Linked DNA regions of Homo sapiens: region 2 is linked to region 1. Evidence: fine-mapped expression QTL. A gene starts in region 1. The other region holds a variant in brackets. All regions are shown on one strand. Distances are from middle to middle. Region 1 holds the start of MAPK12 (mitogen-activated protein kinase 12). Region 2 overlaps TUBGCP6 (tubulin gamma complex component 6).

Region 1 (10,631 bases):
AGGTCTTAGGGGGCAGGCAAGGTCCCCAAGAATGTGGGACCCACATTCAAAAGTAGCCCTTCAGAGGCCGCTAGAGCATGATGGGTGCTGGCCTCCTCTGGCTGTGCAGCTATGGACCTCCCCCTGCCTAGGGGGGTTGGGTATGGCAGAGGAGGGGGTCTGCCCATCTTGGGGTCTGGATGTGACTGTGGGTCTCCTGGAGGAGGGACGTGGGGTGGGCACACTGATGGAGGTCCCCTCGCCCTCGCACAGTGGATATCTGGTCCGTGGGCTGCATCATGGCTGAGCTGCTCCAGGGCAAGGCCCTCTTCCCGGGAAGCGACTGTATCCTTGGCCCAGGTTGGGGAGCAGGGTCAAACAGGGCCCCTCCTGTAGGGTAGGGACCAGCGCTGGCCCCTTCTGGCGGGTCTTGCCTCCTCTGCCCCCCATGCTATGCTACTTTGGGCTGGCCATCCTCACCTATAGGAGAGCGGGCTCTGGGCAGCGCCCCAAAGTTTTGGGTCTGGGGGCCCAGGAGGGGTCTGTGGCTGGCCCGTGGGTGTTTCCTGAGTGACACAGACATTGACCAGCTGAAGCGCATCATGGAAGTGGTGGGCACACCCAGCCCTGAGGTTCTGGCAAAAATCTCCTCAGAACACGTGAGTTGGTGCCCGCCAGCCAGCAGCTCCCTCTCCTGGCTGAGCCCCCAGGCTCTCTGGGGGAGAGGGTGGTGTGGAAATGCGGGGACCATATGGGGAACATGGGATGTGGTGGGATAGAGCCTAGGGCAGGTGCCCAATCCCTGCAGGGGAAACAGGAGAAGGGGGAAGACATTCCTGACACCAGGGACAGTGAGTGCAAAGCCATGACCCCAGCAAGCAGTGCCTGGCCAGGGCAGTGGGGGTGGGCTGGGGGCCCAGCAAGCAGTGCCTGGCCAGGGCAGTGGGGGTGGGCTGGGGGACCCCAGCAAGCAGTGCCTGGCCAGGGCAGTGGGGGTGGGCTGGGTGGAGGGAGTGTACTTGGACCCAGCTCCTGCAGGCATTAGGGGCCAACTGAGGAGCTAGAACCACCAGATCCTATATGGAGGGGGTCACTGGTCTGCCTGTGCCCTTGTCCTGGCCTGTTGGAGTGAATGAGTCTGGGGGCTTGCCAAGAGAAGCCCCAGTTTGGGGCCAGGGAGGCAGAGAGTGAGCAGCCTCCCCAGGTGTTCTTGTGTGCCCCCAGGCCCGGACATATATCCAGTCCCTGCCCCCCATGCCCCAGAAGGACCTGAGCAGCATCTTCCGTGGAGCCAACCCCCTGGGTGAGGACTGCCCTGGGCTAGACTGGGCTCCATATCTGGCCCTGGATGTACAGCTGACCCCCCTCCCCACCACTGGCTTCCCTGCAGCCATAGACCTCCTTGGAAGGATGCTGGTGCTGGACAGTGACCAGAGGGTCAGTGCAGCTGAGGCACTGGCCCACGCCTACTTCAGCCAGTACCACGACCCCGAGGATGAGCCAGAGGCCGAGCCATATGATGAGAGCGTTGAGGCCAAGGAGCGCACGCTGGAGGAGTGGAAGGGTGAGCATGGCAGTGGCTGGGGGTGGGTCCAGGGGCCTGCGGGCTCCATTTCCCCAGAGGCAGGAAATGCCCCAGTTCCTCTCCAGACTGGTCAGGTGTGGAAGGGCGTTCAGGTGTCCAGCACAGGCTGGGAGCGGGGCGGAGGAGTGACACAGGGCAGGTTCTGGCTCCCAGACTGTGCTGAGGCTGCTGTCACAGGGTGGTGGGCCTGGGCTGGGTGGCAGGTGCCAGACAAGCAGGTGAGGGGCCGGGCTGTGGGAGGCACAAGCTCACCCTTTCCCTTCACCTCCTAGAGCTCACTTACCAGGAAGTCCTCAGCTTCAAGCCCCCAGAGCCACCGAAGCCACCTGGCAGCCTGGAGATTGAGCAGTGAGGTGCTGCCCAGCAGCCCCTGAGAGCCTGTGGAGGGGCTTGGGCCTGCACCCTTCCACAGCTGGCCTGGTTTCCTCGAGAGGCACCTCCCACACTCCTATGGTCACAGACTTCTGGCCTAGGACCCCTCGCCTTCAGGAGAATCTACACGCATGTATGCATGCACAAACATGTGTGTACATGTGCTTGCCATGTGTAGGAGTCTGGGCACAAGTGTCCCTGGGCCTACCTTGGTCCTCCTGTCCTCTTCTGGCTACTGCACTCTCCACTGGGACCTGACTGTGGGGTCCTAGATGCCAAAGGGGTTCCCCTGCGGAGTTCCCCTGTCTGTCCCAGGCCGACCCAAGGGAGTGTCAGCCTTGGGCTCTCTTCTGTCCCAGGGCTTTCTGGAGGACGCGCTGGGGCCGGGACCCCGGGAGACTCAAAGGGAGAGGTCTCAGTGGTTAGAGCTGCTCAGCCTGGAGGTAGGGGGCTGTCTTGGTCACTGCTGAGACCCACAGGTCTAAGAGGAGAGGCAGAGCCAGTGTGCCACCAGGCTGGGCAGGGACAACCACCAGGTGTCAAATGAGAAAAGCTGCCTGGAGTCTTGTGTTCACCCGTGGGTGTGTGTGGGCACGTGTGGATGAGCGTGCACTCCCCGTGTTCATATGTCAGGGCACATGTGATGTGGTGCGTGTGAATCTGTGGGCGCCCAAGGCCAGCAGCCATATCTGGCAAGAAGCTGGAGCCGGGGTGGGTGTGCTGTTGCCTTCCCTCTCCTCGGTTCCTGATGCCTTGAGGGGTGTTTCAGACTGGCGGCTCCAGTGGGCCAAAGGGCAACCACATGAGCATGGGCAGGGGCTTTCTCCTTGGATGTGGGACCCACAGCAGCTTCCTGAGGCTGGGGGTGGGTGGGTGGGTGGTTTGGCCTTGAGGACGCTAGGGCAGGCAGCACACCTGGATGTGGACTTGGACTCGGACACTTCTGCCCTGCACCCTGGCCCGCTCTCTACCTCTGCCCACCGTTGTGGCCCTGCAGCCGGAGATCTGAGGTGCTCTGGTCTGTGGGTCAGTCCTCTTTCCTTGTCCCAGGATGGAGCTGATCCAGTAACCTCGGAGACGGGACCCTGCCCAGAGCTGAGTTGGGGGTGTGGCTCTGCCCTGGAAAGGGGGTGACCTCTTGCCTCGAGGGGCCCAGGGAAGCCTGGGTGTCAAGTGCCTGCACCAGGGGTGCACAATAAAGGGGGTTCTCTCTCACTTGGCTTGTATCCAAAGGCTACTCCAGGCCCGGGTGCCCCCACCATCCCTGCTGCTGGGCGTGGGGGGAGTGTCTGGGTCATCCTGCATCACTCACCTCCAGCTGGCCAGATCCCTCAGGCCCCCAGTCAGACCAGCGGCCATCTTCTGGCACCCTCCCTGCTCCCTGGAGGGTCTGAGAGCCCAGGGGGACCAGGGGAAGACATGGCTGATGGGCAGACTTTGAGGGCACAGGGTGTGACAGCCACCCAGATGGTGACCCCAGCTGCCCTGTGGGGATGTACTGGGCAGGCTTGGCTTTGGGCCAAGATCCAGACACCACCCCCGCCTACCCCTCAGTGTTCAGGGAAGCTGGCTGGGGAGAAGTTGGGTGTCTCAAGGAGCAAGGGTCTGCCCATCCCTGGGTGGGGGCTGGGCAGGGTAGGGAAAATAGCTTTCCTTTCCCTCCTGGTGAAGGAAAAAGAGGCCACTTTAACCCAGGGAATGTGCACGCTGGTCCCGTTCCCACTACGCGCTGCAGCTTATGTGTGGGGGAGGGTCCAGGCCATTTGGGGTCAGGCAGTGTCTCTAAGGACCAGGGACAGTCTGTGCCCTTGCTTGGGTCTTGGGTAGGGGTGGAAACCGTCTGGGAGTTGGGGGCCTCCTGGGGCCTGGTCAGTGTAGTGGTCAATCCCGGGGGAAGTCCAGTGTTGGCGGTTGGGGGTGGGAGGAGAATGGTGACACAGCCCCACCTCAGAAGCCTGGTCCGTGCAGGGCCTGCTGGACCCCTGAGCCCCACCACGGGGAGTAAGGGGGACAGCGTGGAAGCTGGGCTTCCTGGAAGAGGTGGATGGAGTGCCACAGGCAGCCCAGGGCACAAAGGGTATGGGCCACAGGCAGCTGTGGTTTGGGTGGCCCTGGGCTGCCCCGCTCACTGGTCACGAGCTGGTGAATGCCGTGGAGCACGGCCCAAGCCCAGGTGTAAAGCTACTACCACCCTTGAGCGGCTGAGCTGCTGATTCATGGCAGGAGGGCGGGGCAGAAGGCCCTAGGGATCCTGTTACCCACCAGCCCAGTGGGCTCCTGGGGTGCCCCAACATCCCTTCTGAGATCCAGGTTCCTGGGCTGGTGAAGGGGTGTCAGGGTGGGGCTTTGCCCTCAGGAGCATCTGGTCCAGGATGGGGCCAGACCTATGGGAGGACAATGCCCACACAGAGGGGTCAGGCGGAGGGCCCCAGCAGGTCCCCATCCCTGCTGGAGAGAGTGCAGCCACTCTCAGCCTGGGTTTTGCAGGACAGGACAGGCAGGGGTGGGATGGGCAGAGACACCAGTACTTGCAATGCTTGGAGCAGGCACCCCACAGATGGGGGGAGCAGGGGGAGGAGCTGGGGGTCCAAAAGGGCCCACGGGGACCTATGGGACTGAGAGGCCCGGGGTCAGTGGCCACAGGAGTGGGGTTGGGGATGCAGCCTGAGGAGTTTGGGGGACAGACCCCTCCGTGTAGAAAGAGGGATACAGGCAGGACAGGTGCAGATGGACCCCTTGTTGGGGGACGGATGGATCAGGCTCAGTGGTAGGGCATCCTTGGGGGTGGCCTGCGAAGTTGACCCCGGGAACACAGGGCTCAGCCCGACTTGCGGCTGCCATAGAAGTCAGCGCTCAGGCTGTCAAGGATGGGCCCTGCGCCCTGGAGCCGTGGGGAGTTAGGACTGGAGCGGGCGGGGGGGGGGGGGGGGGGCTCCTGCTGAGACCCCCCCAGGGCGGGGAAGTTCAGCCAAAGGGGAGAGGCTGGCAGAGGTATCTCCGCGCCGCGTCCGGCCCTTTATGGGGACGAAGCTGCGGGGCGGCGCTCCCCTCCCCCTGCGCTTCCCCCCAGGCTCCGGCCCTCCCCAGGCTCCGGCCCTCCCCCGGCGGCGGCCGCCTCGGGTTTCCGGAGGGGCCGGAGGGCGGGCGAGGGCGTCACGTGCGCGCCGCCCGCGGGCCGGTTGGTCCCCGGGCGGGGGAGGGGCCGTGCGCAGCCTGGGTCGGGGTCGGGCCGGGGTCGGCACCTGGGACATCCCTGAGGGAAGGGCCGGGAGCGGGAGCGCCCCAGCGGCCGGCGGGCGGGCGGGCGAGCGGACGAGCGGCGCGGAGCCGGCCCGAGGCGCGCGCCGAGGGAGCCCCGTCCCCGGTCGTGGGGGCACCGCCCGCAGGCTCTGCGGGGTGGGCAGCTCCCGGGCCTGCCATGAGCTCTCCGCCGCCCGCCCGCAGTGGCTTTTACCGCCAGGAGGTGACCAAGACGGCCTGGGAGGTGCGCGCCGTGTACCGGGACCTGCAGCCCGTGGGCTCGGGCGCCTACGGCGCGGTGTGGTGAGCGCGGGCCGGGCGGGGCGGCCGGCGGGGCGGGCGGGGCCTGCGCGGGGTGCCCGGCCTTCCCGCTAAGCGGTCCGCCCCGCAGCTCGGCCGTGGACGGCCGCACCGGCGCTAAGGTGGCCATCAAGAAGCTGTATCGGCCTTTCCAGTCCGAGCTGTTCGCCAAGCGCGCCTACCGCGAGCTGCGCCTGCTCAAGCACATGCGCCACGAGAACGTGAGTCGCGCGGCCCCGCTCCGGGAAGGCGCCGCGGCCTCGGCTTGGTTCAGCTGGGCTGGGTTCCCCCACCCGGCAACCCCTCCTCCAGGCAGCCTGCTGTGGGGCCGGGCGGGGGTCGGGCCGTGGGTCCCCAGGGGAGAAGGAGAGCAAGGCCTGTCTCTCCTTGGGAGACGACTCCCCCAAGGGCCGTTCCCCATCCTCCGCCAGCCCCGGGAAGGACTCAGCCCCTTGACTCGGCGCCTCAGCCAGGCCCTGGTCAGGGAACACGACTTGGCCAGGCCCAGGGGATCCTCCAGGTCTCACGCCAAGCCTTGCCCCCAGCCAGGAAGCCCGCGGTGAGAGCATGCTCCCGGCGGGAGGATTTTCCTGGAAGGGGCACCTTCCCTCTTCCCCATCCCCTTTCCAGCCCCTCTGTGGAGCCCACTCTGCTGCTGTCCATCTCCCGAGTCTTCCGACCCGGTGGTGGAGGGGGAGGAGGGGGGCGCCAGAACGCAGGGAGTGTGTTGAACCCTCAGGAGCCCCTGGGGGTGAAGGGTTTAGGGAGCTGCTGTTTGAGGAGCACTGGGCGTGGTGGCCGCCTCACAGACACCCTCCTGTGCGTTGTGGGGGCCCATCCTTTCCAGTCCTTCCAGTGAGATGCCACGTACAGCTGCCCTGGGCCTCTCCCATGGCGGTGGCTGGCTGCTAAGAACCCGATCTCTCTGCCAGGGGTGCTCTGGTTTCTGGATACAGTCCCACTTGTCCACTGCCCCCCACGTCACTCCTGCCCTCCCCCTGGTCTGGGCCCAGCCTGAGGGCTGGTGGTCTGGGCACCCGGACCCTACCTACAGGGTGAGATGCTCTGGACCCTCCTGGGTCATCTGAGCCACCGGTGCCTTGGGAGAACGAGTCCCTGCGTCCACCAGCAAAGTGCCCCGTCCACCAGCAAAGTGCCCCGTCCCCCGGTTCCTGGCCACCGCTACTCCCTCAGCCCCTTGGATGGGTCTTTTTCTCTGAGGCTTCCCATGCCCACCCTGACCCCCAGCTCACTACCCTGGGCCCTGTGAAATCCATTTGCAGTGGACACCAGCCCTGCCCGCACCTCGACACCCCGTCACACCCAGCCCTGCCCCCACTTCGCCGGCACCGCACCCCCCCACCACCCGCCCATCACACCAAGGCCTTGCCCCAGGACTGCAGCCTTCCCCACGGCCCCCTGCTCCCACCCACCCACTCACCCACCCGTGCCTTGCCCCATCCAGCCAAGCGCTCTGGGGCTTTTTTTCTTTTTTTTTCTTTTGAGACCGAGTTTCGCTCTTGTTGCCCAGGCTGGAGTGCAATGGCACGATCTCAGCTCACTGCAACCTTCGCGTCCTGGGTTCAGGCGATTCTCCTGCTTCAGCCTCCTCAGTAGCTGGGATTACAGGCGCGCGCCACCACGCCTGGCTAATTTTTTGTATTTTTAGTTGAGATGAGGTTTCACTATGTTGGGCAGACTGGTCTCGAACCCCTGACCTCAAGTGATCTGCTCGCCTCGGCTTCCCAAAGTGCTGGGGTTACAGGCGTGAGCCACCGCGCCGGGCTCCACCGGGGCTTTTCTTTAGCCACCGCCCCGCTGTGCTGGGATCTCCGCTGTGCCTGTGGGCCCACCCCCTGGGCTCCTGGCCTGCAGCTGAGGCTCTTTCCCTGGAACCCCATCTTCCTGGGAGACTGAAGCTCTGTGAGGCCACGTGCCTTGCTCAGCGGGGGAGGAGGCTCTGCCACAGGCCTCAGTCCTGCCAGGCCGCCTCCCTCTCCAGGCCAGCCCCCATACCACAGAGGCCAGGCCAAGTCCTGTGGCCCCTAGCCCACAGGACCCTGCTCTCCGTCTTCTGCTAAAGCACTCTCCCGGGCACCCTCCAGCTCTCATGTCCACAGTCCCCGCTGCCCCCTGGACACCCCCTCTGTTCCCTCTCCTCCTCCCTCCACATTCTTGCCCATGGCTCTGGCCCACGTGGCTCCGGCGGAGCTGTCCTTCCAGCTTGTGTCCATTCTTACCTCACTCTGGCCGGTTCCTACACCACGGCCAGGAGGACGCATTTAGCCTCACGTCCCCATTTAAATCGTCCCCGTCTCTTGGGATCAAAGCCAAACTTCCACCTGGTGTGTGCTGCCCTGCCGGCTCCCTCTGGCCTCTCCTCAGCCCCTCCCTGGCCTGGGCCTCCGCCACCTGGCCTCCCTCCCTGTATTCTTCAAACTATCCAAGTGTGCTCCCTCCTGCCTCGGCCACTCTGTGTGTGCCCTCTGCCAGGTGTCCCGCAGCCCACATGTCTACCTGCCCCTCCACCCTTGGCTGTGCAAAACTCCAGGCCTCCCTGGGACCGTCACCCCAAAATGCTGAGGCGGCAGTTGTCACATGACCTGTCTACTGTCTATCTCCCCAACCAGGGGTGCTGAGGGGACCAGGTCTGGTGGGTCACGGTGCTGTCCGCCTGGGCCTCACCAGCAGAGGCCTGGCCTCTTTCCATAGCGCTGTCCCCACCCTGGGCCTGGATCTGTTTGGTTGGGGTGAAGAGGGGTGAAAGGGTCAGGCGGCAGGAGCCCTTTGGATGGTTCGGAGCCATCCCAGACTCCGGGTTGCCCCTCCCCCAGAAGATCCCGGTTGTCACCGTCCAAAAATAACCTTTCTGTGGGTATGTGTGCCAGGGCTGGGCCACACTGCCAGTGGGTATGTGTGCCAGGGCTGGGCCACACTGCCAGTGGGCAGAGCCAGGCCCTTTGGACAGTGGGGCATGACAATGACAGCTGCAGAGGGGGTTTCCTGCCCAGAGGGTTGTGCCACTCTTGGGGGGTGCCCCAGCCCGTGTCCTCTGCTGCATTCTCAACCCTATGTGGCCCCCCCAGGTGATCGGGCTGCTGGACGTATTCACTCCTGATGAGACCCTGGATGACTTCACGGACTTGTGAGTGCCGACCTGGGCTGGCCGCTGGGCACGAGGGGTGTTGGGCAGCTCTGGGCACTGGCTTCAGGTTCTAGGTTGGCAATGGGGTTCTCTTCCTGCAGCCTGAGTGGGGGATGCACACCGCCCACCCCCTCCCCATACCACTGTCCACCCCACGCCCTCCCCCACATGGTCCTGGGACCCACGGGCACTGGCACAGCTGGGCAGAGCTGGGGCTGCTGCCTCTCTCCACGCCTGGCACCTGGGCCCTCTCCAGCACCGGAGGTGTGAACCTTGGACCTGACCATTTGTTAACAGGAAGGTCCCGTGCTCGGGACCCTGGCACCAAGTGTGTGGCCGGTAACTGGAGCTGCTGACCTTTTCCAGCGGGTGGGGGAGAAGCGGTAGGGAGGACCCACCCTGCCCCTGCCCTGCAGCCGACCACCCTGGGACTCACACCCTGTCGGCCAAGAGTGAAGGGCCAGGCCGAGGAAGGCCTGGAGAGGGTAGCAGGCGCCTCCCGCCTGACTTGCAGAGGTCAAGTCAGTGGCCTCTGGGAAGGTGCTAAATACCATTCTCCTGTGTCTGTCTCCACCGGCCCAGCCGACCCCTCTGACCCAGATGCCTTGCCGCGCCCCCATCGCCCCCAGGCACCTCCCTCATTTCTGGCACAAAGTTGTGAAGTTGAAACCTGACTGCCTCCCTCCCCTGCCTGTGAAGACTCGAGTCCTGCTGCCTCTACCATGGAGCCTCAGCCCCTAGCCTGGCACGCAGGGCGCTTCAGCGGAGGGTTCAAAAACCCCAAGGCAGCCTCCTCCCTGCCTGACAGTCCTCAGGGTGGGAGGGGGGTGTGAGCGCTGCTGGCAGTAACAGTTGCGGGAGGATGGAGCCTGGCACTGCAAGGTGGGGCTGCGAGGACACCGAGGCCAGTGTGGATGTGTGCTGCAGGGGTGACCTTCCTGGGGGTGCCTGTTGGATCCGGGACGGGTCTGAGCCTGGGCCTGCTGGGTGGGTCTCTGGGATGCAGAGGCTGGCTCTGTCCGCTGACAGCGCTCCGGCCCCTCCCACAGTTACCTGGTGATGCCGTTCATGGGCACCGACCTGGGCAAGCTCATGAAACATGAGAAGCTAGGCGAGGACCGGATCCAGTTCCTCGTGTACCAGATGCTGAAGGGGCTGAGGGTACGGGCCCCGGGGGAGGCTGCAGGGAGGCAGGCAGGGCCTCGGGGCTGGGCAGAGGAGGGCCCTGTGGCTCTGAGAGGGTGCGCTGAAGCCTGCCAAATCCTCTGCCCCCCGCAGTATATCCACGCTGCCGGCATCATCCACAGAGTGAGTCCCGGTGGAGAAGCCGCTCATCAGCCCTCCCCCAGTGCAATCCCCCCGCCTCCACGTCCCACCTGTGAGGATGTGATGGGGTCTGGGTGCTGAGCCACGCCCTATGCACAGCCCCTGGTGGGAACCTGCCTGGGTGCCCAGGTACCTTGGTCTGCCCTTGAAGGGCTGCAGAGAGCAAGGGGGCCAGGTCCGGTGGCCCCATCTTTAGGTGCCACCCAGGCTCTTGGCTGTGCCCATGCTTGGGAGGGTGGGGCACAGTGGCCACCTTTCCTCTGCCCCCAGGACCTGAAGCCCGGCAACCTGGCTGTGAACGAAGACTGTGAGCTGAAGGTGTGTGCTGCCTGGCAGGGGGCCCTGAGGTGGGGCAGGGGCCCCCTCTGGATCTGCCCATCTATCCACCTGTCAGGCCTGGGCAGGGGGCCAAGGTCCCAGGCTCTGGGCAGTGGCTGAGGAGCTGGTGGGTGGGTGAGCCCAAGAGGCAGTGGTACACAACATGCCGTACCCAGGGCACCTGCTCCGTCCCGAGGGCTGCTGGGCTTGGTGCACTGGCCAGAGGGAGGAGCTCGGGGCAGTTTGGGGTCCGAGGGCGTGGCCTCAAGTCCTTGAAGGTTGTCAGGAGGCCCCAGCTTGGGAGCTTCAAGTCCAACCCCCCGGGGTCTCCTGGACCGTGGGTGGCCTGTCCGCTCCTTGGGAGTC
Region 2 (10,631 bases), 24 kb after region 1:
GCTCACTGCAACCTCCATCTCCTGGGTTCAAGCGATTCTCCTGCCTCAGCCTCCTAAGTATCTGGGACTACAGGTGTGCGTCACCACACACAGCTAATTTTTGTATTTTATATGTTTGTATTTTTATTTTTTTATTTTATTTGATTTTTTTTTTTGACACAGTCTCGCTCTGTCGCCCAGGCTCGAGTGCGGTGGCACAATCTTGGCTCACTGCAAGCTCTGCCTCCCAGGTTCACGCCATTCTCCCGCCTCAGCCTCCTGAGTAGCTGGGACTACAGGTGCCTGCCACCACGCCCTGCGAATTTTTTGTATATTTAGTAGAGACGGGGTTTCACCGTGTTAGCCAGGATGGTCTCTATCTCCTCACCTCGTGATCTGCCCGCCTCGGCCTCCCAAAGTGCTGGGATTACAGGCGTGAGCCCGGCCTGATTGTTCTTTTTTTTTTTTTTTTTTTTTTTTTTGAGATGGAGTCTTGTGTAGGGACCAGCCCTACAGGGTCTGTGGGTTTTTCTCTCCATATGCGGAGACCAGAGATGGTAGAAATAAAGACACAAGACAGAGATAGAAGAAAAAACAGCTGGGCCCGGGGGATCACTACCACCAACACGTGGAGACCAGTAGTGGCCCCAAATGCCAGGCTGCGCTGTTATTTATTGGATACAAGGCAAAAGGGGCAGGGTAAGGAGTGTGAGTCATCTCCAATGATAGGTAAGGTCACGTGGGTCACGTGTCAACTGGACAGGGGGCCCTTCCCTGTTTGGCAGCCGAAGCAGAGAGAGAGGAGACAGCTTACACCATTATTTCTGCATTTCAGAGACTTTTAGTACTTTCACTAATTTGCTACTGCTATCTAGAAGGCAGAGCCAGGTGTACAGGATGGAACATGAAAGTGGACTAGGAGTGTGACTGCTGAAGCACAGCATCACAGGGAGACGTTTAGGCCTCTGGATAACTGCGGGTGGGCCTGAGTCATGTCAGGCCCTCCACAAGAGGTGGTGGAGCAGAGTCTTCTCTAACTCCCCCAGGGAAAGGGAGACTCCCTTTCCTGGTCTGCTAAGTAGTGGGTGCTTTTCCTAGGCACTGACGCTACCGCTAGACCAAGGTCCGCTAGGTAATGGGCGTCTTCCCAGGTGCTGCCATTACCACTAGACTAAGGAGCCCTCTAGTGGCCCTGTCTGGGCATGACAGAAGGCTCACACTCTTGTCTTCTGGTCACTTCTCACCTTGCCCCTTCAGCTCCTGTCTCTGTATGGCCTGGTTTCTCGTAAGTTACAATTGTAGAGCGAAGATTATTATAATCTTGGAATAAAGAGCAATTGCTACAAACTAATGATTAATAACGTTCATATATAATCATATTTATGATCTATAGTGTAACTATTCTTGTTCTATATATTTTATTGTACTAGAACAGCTCGTGCCCTCGGTCTCTTGCCTCGGCACCTGGGTGGCTTGCTGCCCACAGTCTTGCTCTGTCGCCCAGACTGGAGTGTGGTGGCGCAATCTCGGCTCACTGCAACCTCCGCTTCCCGGGTTCAAGCAATTCTTCTGCCTCAGCCTCCCGAGTAGCTGGGACCACAGGTGCCCACCACCACGCCTGGCCGATTTTTATATTTTTAGTAGAGACGGGGTTTCACATGCTGGCCAGGCTGGTCTCAAACTCCTGACCTCAGGTGATCCACCTGCCTCAGCCTCCCATAGTGCTGGGATTACAGGCGTGAGCCACTGCGCCTGGCCCCGGTGTACAGTAGTGTTTTAATGTTGAGTGTGATTTTTTTAATTCTGGGTTCCCCACATTGGAATTTCCAGGTCTGAGGCATCTCAAAAAGTTTCACTCTAAGTTCCACTGAGGCTTATGTGTTACATGGAATTGGAAATTGGCAGCCTTGACGACTTATTTTGTTTAATTCCTTAAATGGCTCATTGGTGGGAAACATTGTATGGTACACATGCGCTTGAGAAAAACAGAAGAAACATTTTGTTAGGTCTTTGCATAAAGTTCCTGAAATTCTCATCGCCCTTGGATGAAACGTGGACACAGCAATAAGTGGCGGTTTGCCCTTCCCTGTGTCTCCAGGTCCCACCGAGTGTGGATCAGTGGGAAGACGAAGGATTCCAGTCAGCGTCCAACTTGACTCCTGATTCCCAGTCTGAGCCCAGCGTGACCCCAGACGTGGACCTGTGGGAAGCCGCACTTACCTATGAGGCCAGCAAGCGGAGGTGCTGGGAGCGAGTTGGCTGGTGTGTGCCCTTCTTTGCCTTGGCATGCAGTGCCCCTACCCCTGCATGAGCGTGGCCTTGGATGGGGTGTGTGGGGGGCGTTGTGTACTCAGGGGTCCAGGCAGTTGTGATGGGTTAGTAACCTAAGCTAGTGTCCAAAATTGACTGAGTCCTGGGAGTTAAGAGAGATGCAGAGGGGAAAGCACTAACAGCCTTTAAGGAGGCCTCACCTCCCCATCCAGTAACCAGATCACACCTGTCGGGCAGAACTCCCCTCCCTGTGCCAGTAACCAGATCACACCTGTCGGGCAGAGCTCCCCTCCCCGTGCCAGTAACCAGATCACACCTGCCAGGCAGAGCAGTTGGGGCAGCTAAGTTATGTCCTTAAGAGCAAGAGAGCTGCCTGGCAGGCTGTGTGATTAGTGCCAGGAAGAAATGCTCACTGGGCATGGGGTGCTGATGAAGGAGCCTTTTCCATTCATGTCTAGAGGAATTGGGGTGCTGATGAACACGGAACCTTTTCCGTCCGTGTCTGGAGGAGTTGGGAGGGGCAGTCTGGGTGATGAGAAGCTCCAGCTGCAGCAGCTTTTTCCTGACTGGTACCAGCAGCTTGCTCTCTGGATGCGGTAGCCACTCACTCCCTGGCTCACCTGGGTCCAGAGGCCTCTGCACTCAGCACCTCTCAGAGTCTTTAATGTGGTGGTATCTTTTGATAACTCCCAGAACCCAGGCAGAGAATATGCATTTCGCCTGGGCGCGGTGGCTCACATCTGTAATCCCAGCACTTTGGGAGGCTGAGGCGGGCAGATCACTTGAAGTCAGGATTTTGAGACTGGCCTGGGCAACATGGTGAAACCCCGTCTCTACTAAAAATACAAAAATTAGCTGGGCGTGGTGGTGCTCGCTTATAATCCCAGCTACTCAGGAGGTTGAGGCACAAGAATCACTTGAACCTGGGAGGTGGAGTTTGCAGTGAGCCGAGATTGCACCACTGCACTCCAGCCTGGGTGACAGAGTGAGATTGTCTCAAAAACAAAAAACAAACAAACAAAAAAACACGCACTTCCCCAAATGTTTGGCCATGGAATGCCCCGTTCACATCCAGTCCACTGGTGATCCTGTGGGTATCGGTTTGGGGAGTGTTGGGTGAAAGGGTCAGGGCTGGCTGGGAGCTGAGTGCTCTGGGATGCAGTGGCTGGGCTCTGGCAGCCTGGACAGGAGCATGTGCCCCCGGGTGGGCGAGCTTTCCTGACATCATGAAGATTCCCTCAGGGTTGGCTGTCTCCCTGCTTCCCAGCACGGTGGTGGTGGCTTTATCCTGACTGCCAGGGCCTTCCTGCTGTGTCACTTCCTGCTGGTGCATCAGTCAAAGCAAATCTCATGGTCCTGCTCTCTGCCAATCCCTCACACGTTTAAAAACTGGCCTTTGGGAGGCTGAGGCGGGTGGATCACGAGGTCAGGAGATCGAGACCATCCTGGCTAACACAGTGAAACCCCGTCTCTACTAAAAATACAAAAAATTAGCCAGGCGTGGTGGCGGGTGCCTGTGGTCCCAGCTACTGGGGAGGCTGAGGCAGGAGAATGGCGTGAACCCGGGAGGCGGAGTTTGCAGTGAGCGGATATTGCGCCACTGCACTCCAGCCTGGGTGACAGAGCGAGACTCCGTCTCAAAAAAAAAAACAAAAAAAAAAACTGGCCCTACAAGTTATTGCTTTATTCTGTACATGTCTGCTAATAGTATTTTTTTCTGTTTTTTTTTTGTATTTATTTATTTATTGAGGCGGAGTCTTGTTCTGTTGCCCAGGCTGGAGTGCAGTGGCACCATCTCCAGCTCACTGCAACCTCCGCCTCCCGGGTTCAAGTAATTCTCCCTGTCTCAGCCTCCTGAGTAGCTGGGATTACAGGCACCTGCCACCATGCCCAGCTAATTTTTGTAAAAACTCAGAACCTTCCAACACCAGGTTCCCTTCACCTGGAACATTCTTCAGCTCACCATAATTAGGCAACTCCTTTCATCCTAAACAAACTAGGTCCCCCAAACTCTCCCTCATAAGTCTGTCTGTCTGTCTCTCTCTCTCTCTCTCTCTTTTCTTTTTCTTTCTTTGTCCTTGTTGCCCAGGCTGGAGTGCAATGGCGCAATCTTGGCTCACTGCAACCTCTGCCTCCTGGGTTCAAGCGATTCTCCTGCCTCAGCTTCCCAAGTAGCTGGGATTACAGTGGGATTACAGGCATGGGACACCACGCCTGGCTAATTTTGTGTTTTTAGTAGAGATGGTGTTTCTCCATGTTGGTCAGGCTGGTCTTGAACTCCCACCGTCAGGTGATCCACCCGCCTCGGCCTCCCAAAGTGCTGGGATTACAGGCATGAGCCACCGTGCTGGCTGTATTTCATTTATTAACTCCCCCTTTTCTAGGTTCATTTTTTCGGGTTGCTGATGAGGAGACATGGTCACTCACTCTCCTCATCACCCTGTTCTGAATACGCTGGAGACTGCGGAGCTCCCGCACGGTGGGGCCCGGCGGTGGTTCCTAGGCTGCGGAGCTCCGGCACGGTGGGGCCTGGCGGTGGTTCCTATAGGGAGGTGCTGCTGTGTGCCTGGCAGTGTGCTGAGCACAGCCTGGGCAGCTCCTGTAGGGACTTTCTCTGCCCAGGGCCCTGCAGAGTGAAAGTGCTGTGGTCATCTCAGTGTCCAGTGGCTGACCTGCACAGGGCCACACAGTGGCTGGACCTGAGTTTACGTCTCCTGGGCCCCTCTACTCCCTGATCCCACGGCCCCTGACACTGCAGTCGGGTCAGCCTGATGCTGTGGTTCAAGTTCCTTTGGCAAATCGTTTGGTCTTGTTTCATTTTAAATCCCAGCCACCTGCTAGTTTCCTGCTGTGATGAGCTCTGACCAGCAGGTGGCTAAAGAAACTGCCGCCTAGCCAGAAATTGAGCCTTCTCCACTCTCCAAGACATCAACCCTGCTTTCCCACAGGTCCCAAGACCCCACGGGGGGCCACTC[G/T]CCCCTGCTGTTGCCCACCCTGAGAACCACCATTGTCCGACTGCTCACGGCCCTCCCTGCTGCTGAGCTGCAAGGGCTGGGTTAAGGCGGAGGGAGGCCTTTCAGACCCTGGAATGGTCTCTTTCTCTGCATGTGCCACCCATCTGGGGGAAGCATTTTGCTACATTTTGGGTTGTGTTCTCTCTGGGGACCTGTTGGGGCGGGGGGTGTTCACTCCAGAGCCTGCAGGATCCTGCGCTGTGTCTTTGTGTTTCCGCTGTGGGCTTTTTTTCCCTCAGTTCTGAGTCACCAAGAGGGGTGTGCAGCCATGGCAGTGCTGGGGGCCAGTCCTGGAGGAGATGGGGTGGAAGTGGCTGCAGGGGGAAACAGGGTTGTGCCCACAGCCTGCACCCCTGCCGAGGCCATCTGCAGGAAGAAATGCAGGGGGCAGACAGAGGCTCTGAGAGGCTGTGTCTTTCTCATGCTCATCTCATCCTGAGGGAGCCTGGGCAGGCGTCTGGGGTCCAGAGCGGCCCCACCTGCTGACTGGACATCTCAGGGCTGGTCTCCTTCCTCCTGCCCCCTCCAGCCCACCCTCTTCATAGCAGAGGTGGCCAGTAAAAGTGTGTTTCTTGGAGCTGATTGTTTTCGCAGGGAGGACGGGGGTGTGAGTGTGTGTAGTGCCAGTACATGTGGTTTCACAGCCTCAGCACCAGCAGAAGGCAAATTTCCTCAGAGTTGCATGTGCCCAGGGCTGCCTGTACCAGCCCACCTTACCTGTTACTGTCTTAAAAATTTGTGAACTTAGCCAGGTGCAGTGGCTCACGCCTGTAATCCCAGCACTTTGGGAGGCTGAGGTGGGCGGATCACGAGGTCAAGAGATCGAGACCATCCTGGCTAACACGGTGAAACCCCATCTCTGCTAAAAATACAAAAAATTAGCCAGGCATGGTGGCCCGTGCCTGTAGTCCCAGCTACTCGGGAGGCTGAGGCAGGAGAATGGTGTGAACCCAGCAGGCAGAGGTTGCAATGGGCCAAGATCGTGCCACTGCACTCCAGCCTGGGTGACAGAGCGAGACTCCGTCTCAAAAAAAAAAATTGTGAATTTTTTTTTCTGTATCCATCTCTTACGGTTTTTCTGAGGTGGGGCAGTAAAATTTATATAATGTTTTTACCGTCTTAACCAGTTGTACAGCTTTGTAATGCTGTGTGTATTTTCACTGCTGCACAGCAAGTCTGCAGGAAACTCTGAACCCATTAAACAGCTCCCCATTCACTCCACTTTTTTTTTTTTTTTTTCCGAGATGGAGTCTTGCTCTGTTGCTCAAGCTGGAGTGCAGTGGCACGATCTTGGCTCACTGCAACCTCCACCTCCCGGGTTCAAGCCATTCTCCTGCCTTAGCCTCCTGAGCAGCTGGGATTACAGATGCCCGCCACCACGCCCAGCTAATTTTTGTGTTTTTAGTAGAGTCAGGGTTTCACCATGTTGGCCAGGCTGGTCTTGAACTCCTGACCTCGTGATCTGCCTTTCTTGGCCTCCCAAAGTGTTGGGATTATAGGCATGAGCCACCGCACCTGGCCTCCACTTTCTGTCTCTAGGATTTTGGCCACTGTAGGGACCTCATGTAAGTGGAGTTGCACAGTGTTTTGTGATGGCTCATTTTACTCCACTTGGCGTCCTCGAGCGCCGTCCCTGTGGAGACAGTGTTTTGTGATGGCTCATTGCACTCCACACGGCGTCCTTGAGTGCCGTGCCTTCTGGAGCACGTGTCTGAGCTGCCTTCCTTTTTAAGGCTGAATGATGGGCAGGGGTCTGCACGGACGGTCTGTGTTTATCCTCCTCTGTTGGGGGCTCAGGCTCCTCTCCCCCTGGCTGTTGTGGATGTTGTTGCCGTGGACGGGGGTGTGGATGCTGCTGTGGACAGGCATGTGGATGTTGCCGTGGACAGGCATGTGGATAGGCATGTGGATGTTGCCGTGGACAGGGATGTGGATGCTGCCATGGACAGGAGTGTGGATGATGCTGCCGTGGACAGGGATGTGGATGATGCTGCCGTGAATAGGGGTGTAGATGCTGCCATGGACTGGGGTGTGGATGCTGCCATGGACACGGGTGTGGATGATGCTGCAGTGGATAGGGTTGTGGATGATGTTCCCATGGACAGGGGTGTGGATACTGCTGTGGACAGGGGTGTGGCTGATGCTGCCGTGGACAGGGGGTGGATGCTGCCGTGGATAGGGGTGTGGATGATGCTGCGGTGGACCTGGGTGTGGATGCTGCCATGGACGGGAGTGTGGGCGATGCTGCCGTGGACCTGGGTGTGGATGCTGCTGTGGACAGGGGTGTGGATGATGCTGCCATGGGTGTGTGTGGGTGATGCTGCCAGGGACAGGGGTGTGGGTGATGCTGTCGTGGACAGGGGGTGTGGATGATGCTGCTGTGGACCTGGATGTGGATGCTGCTGTGGACGGGGGTGTGGGTGCTGGTACCATGGGTGGGTGTGGGTGATGCTGCCGTGGACAGGGGGTGTGGATGATGCTGCTGTGGACCTGGGTGTAGATGCTGCTGTGGACGGGGGTGTGGGTGATGCTGCCGTGCACAGGGGGTGTGGATGATGCTGCTGTGGATAGGGGTGTGGATGATGCTGCCGTGGACGGGGGTGTGGGCGATGCTGCCGTGGACCTGGGTGTGGATGATGCTGCTGTGGAACTGGGTGTGGATGCTGCTGTGGACAGGGGTGTGGATGCTGCTGCTGTGGACGGGGGTGTGGGCGATGCTGCTGTGGACCTGGATGTGGATGATGCTGCCGTGGACTTGGGTGTGGATGCTGCTGTGGACAGGGGTGTGGATGATGCTGCCGTGGACCTGGGTGTGGATGCTGCTGTGGACAGGGGTGTGGATGCTGCTGTGGACAGGGGTGTGGATGATGCTGCCATGGGTGGGTGTGGGTGATGCTGCCATGGACAGGGGTGTGGGTGATGCTTCCGTGGACAGAGGGTGTGGATGATGCTGCTGTGGACCTGGGTGTAGATGCTGCTGTGGACGGGCGTGTGGATGATGCTGCCGTGGATGGGTGTGGGTGATGCTGCTGTGGATAGGGGTGTGGATGATGATGCTGTGGACAGGGGGTGTGGATGCTGCCATGGATGGGGTATGGATGATGCTGCCATGGACAGGGGGTGTGGATGATGCTGCAGTGGACCTGGATGTGGATGCTGCTGTGGACAGGGGTGTGGATGATGCTGCCATGAACAGGGATGTGGATGCTGCCATGGACCTGGGTGTGGATGCTGCCATGGACAGGGTGTAGATGCTGTTGTGTACATGGGTGTACAAATCTTGTTTTGTTTCTAACAGAAGAATACTTTATGAGTGAATCACCATCTTGAGGGCCACTGGCGTGGCCTGGGGTGCTCTTCCAGGGCTGGGCCAGTCGGATACCCCCGGCCATGCCCAGGACCCCAGGAAGGTGCCCTGGAACACTTTCCACATGAGTTGTCCTGATAGAATCGATCGTGCTGGTATTCACAGCAGCAGCATCCACAAAAGGCTGGGTGGTGAGCTGACATTCATACCTGGCTATGTTTCTTAGAGTTTATTGTTTTGAATCACTTCCATTCTTCTGTTCATGCCCATTCCCGAGAGAAAGCACCCTGGTGCTGAGGTGCAGGTCACCACGTCTGCTCATGGCCTCTCTTCTGCACCCCTCGCAGCCCCCCTGGCCACAGAGAGGAGCCTTACCTGACGGAGGCGGGAAGGGACGCTTTCGACAAGTTCTGCAGGCTCCACCAAGGGGAGCTCCAGCTGCTTGCTGGGGGCGTCCTACAGGCCCCGCAGCCCGTGCTGGTGAAGGAGTGCGAGCTGGTGAAAGACGTGCTGAACGTCTTGATTGGGGTCGTGTCTGCCACGTTTTCGCTCTGCCAGGTGAGAACTGCTCACTCCCCGCCACAGTGGTGTGGGGCTGGCCTGCCCTCCACCACGCAGTGCCCAGCCCTTTATGGGGCAGAACAAGCCCCAGTGCAGGGAGTGGGGAGTGGCAGGGAAGGCCAGCTCCCAGGGCCACCAGTGATGACAGCCAGCATCATCCCATTTCGGTTCTAAAAAGTGTTAATTTATTAATGTCCTTTTAAAAAACTGCAGAGAAATAACATGTTTATTGCTGTCAGCAAAGCGATAGAAAATGTTCCTCCCCGCATTTCCATTTCCGTCCTGAAGTGCCAGGCGCCTTCCGAGCCTTCCCACCGCTCGGGAGGAGCATCTGCCTGCCGAGAGCGTCCCGAGACTGGGGCCTGCGCTGCTCTTCTCACTGGATGCGGTGTCATCCGGGATGGGGCCGGGCCTTACTGGTTCTGGCACCAGCTGCAGTTTAGCCAGCCCTCTTGCTGGGCACTGGAGAAGTGAATGGATATATTCAGAAAAATGAAGTCTTGCTCTGCAGCTTTTTCATTTAAGTGCTCATCCCCTTCCTTTGTCTTAAATGTTCTTTTATGGTGGCCATTCTTAGACTTCAGAATGGACTAGAAGCACAGCCAGTGACTGCCCCAGAAAAGTGCTCACCAGCAAGCTCCAGCTGCTGCCGGCGCTGAGGGCGCCTGTTCTCAACACCGTGCTCACAGCTCATCTTGTCTGTTGTGGGGATAGCCTTATTGTGTGGAACCAACCCTGACTCTCTTTTTTTTTTTTGAGACAGGGTCTCTCTCTTGCCCAGGCTGGAGTGCAGTGGCACCATCACAGCTCACAGTAGCCTCGACCTCCTGGGCTGAATCTCAATCCTCCCACCTTAGCCTCCATGTAGCTGGGACTACAGGCACGTGCCACCACACTCAGCTCATTTTTTTCTTTTCTTTTTCTTTTTCTTTTTCTTTTTTTTTTTTGAGACAGAGTCTCGCTCTGTTGCCCATTCTGGAGTGTAATGGCACGGTCTCGGCTCACTGCAAACTCTGCCTCCCGGGTTCAAGCAATTCTCCTGCCTCAGCCTCCCGAGTAGCTGGGATTACAGGTGCATGTCACTACGGCTGGCTAATTTTTGTATTTTTAGTAGAGACGGGGTTTCACCATGTTGCTCAGGCTGGTCTCTTGACTCCTGACCTGAGGTGATTTGCCCACCTCAGCCTCCCAAAGTGCTAGGATTACAGGCATGAGCCACCACGCCCGGCCCACCCAGCTAATTTTTAAAATGCCTGAAGAGATGGGGTCTTGCCGTGTTGCCCAGGCTGGTGTTGAACTCCTGGGCTCAAGTGATCTGCCTGCCTCAGCCTCCCAAAGTCCTGGGATTGCAAGTGTGAGCCGCCACGCCCGGCCCCTACTTTTCATTTCTGATTTTAGTAACTTGATTTTTTTCTCTTGTTTTCATAGTCATCTTTTCTTTTTTTTTTTTTTTGAGACGGAGTCTCGCTCTGTGGCCCAGGCTGGAGGGCAGTGGCGCG

The links. PIP is the estimated chance that this variant, and not a neighbour inherited with it, causes the effect.
Region 2: its variant is fine-mapped to the expression of MAPK12 in whole blood (TOPMed, PIP above 0.99).

What each region holds. Positions count from the first base shown.
Region 1 is chr22:50,256,233-50,266,863 of GRCh38, reverse strand. It overlaps MAPK12 (mitogen-activated protein kinase 12), which reads left to right and starts at 5,181. Exons shown (of 12, transcript NM_002969.6): 1 at 5,181-5,479; 2 at 5,568-5,697; 3 at 8,563-8,621; 4 at 9,671-9,782; 5 at 9,900-9,929; 6 at 10,218-10,265. The coding sequence starts at 5,355. MAPK11 (mitogen-activated protein kinase 11) reads left to right here. Exons shown (of 12, transcript NM_002751.7): 8 at 253-324; 9 at 559-638; 10 at 1,204-1,282; 11 at 1,370-1,543; 12 at 1,837-3,151. The coding sequence ends at 1,916. RefSeq lists enhancers at 4,064-4,795, 6,365-6,865, 7,590-8,162 and silencers at 4,843-4,892, 4,903-5,212, 5,243-5,612, 5,763-5,942.
Region 2 is chr22:50,231,814-50,242,444 of GRCh38, reverse strand. It overlaps TUBGCP6 (tubulin gamma complex component 6), which reads left to right. Exons shown (of 25, transcript NM_020461.4): 2 at 2,078-2,241; 3 at 8,919-9,129. Among named protein-coding and RNA genes, the nearest start is that of TUBGCP6, 7.9 kb to the left of the region's middle. RefSeq lists enhancers at 741-1,040, 2,938-3,437, 3,438-3,939. The variant G/T (reference allele first, on the strand shown) is at 5,226.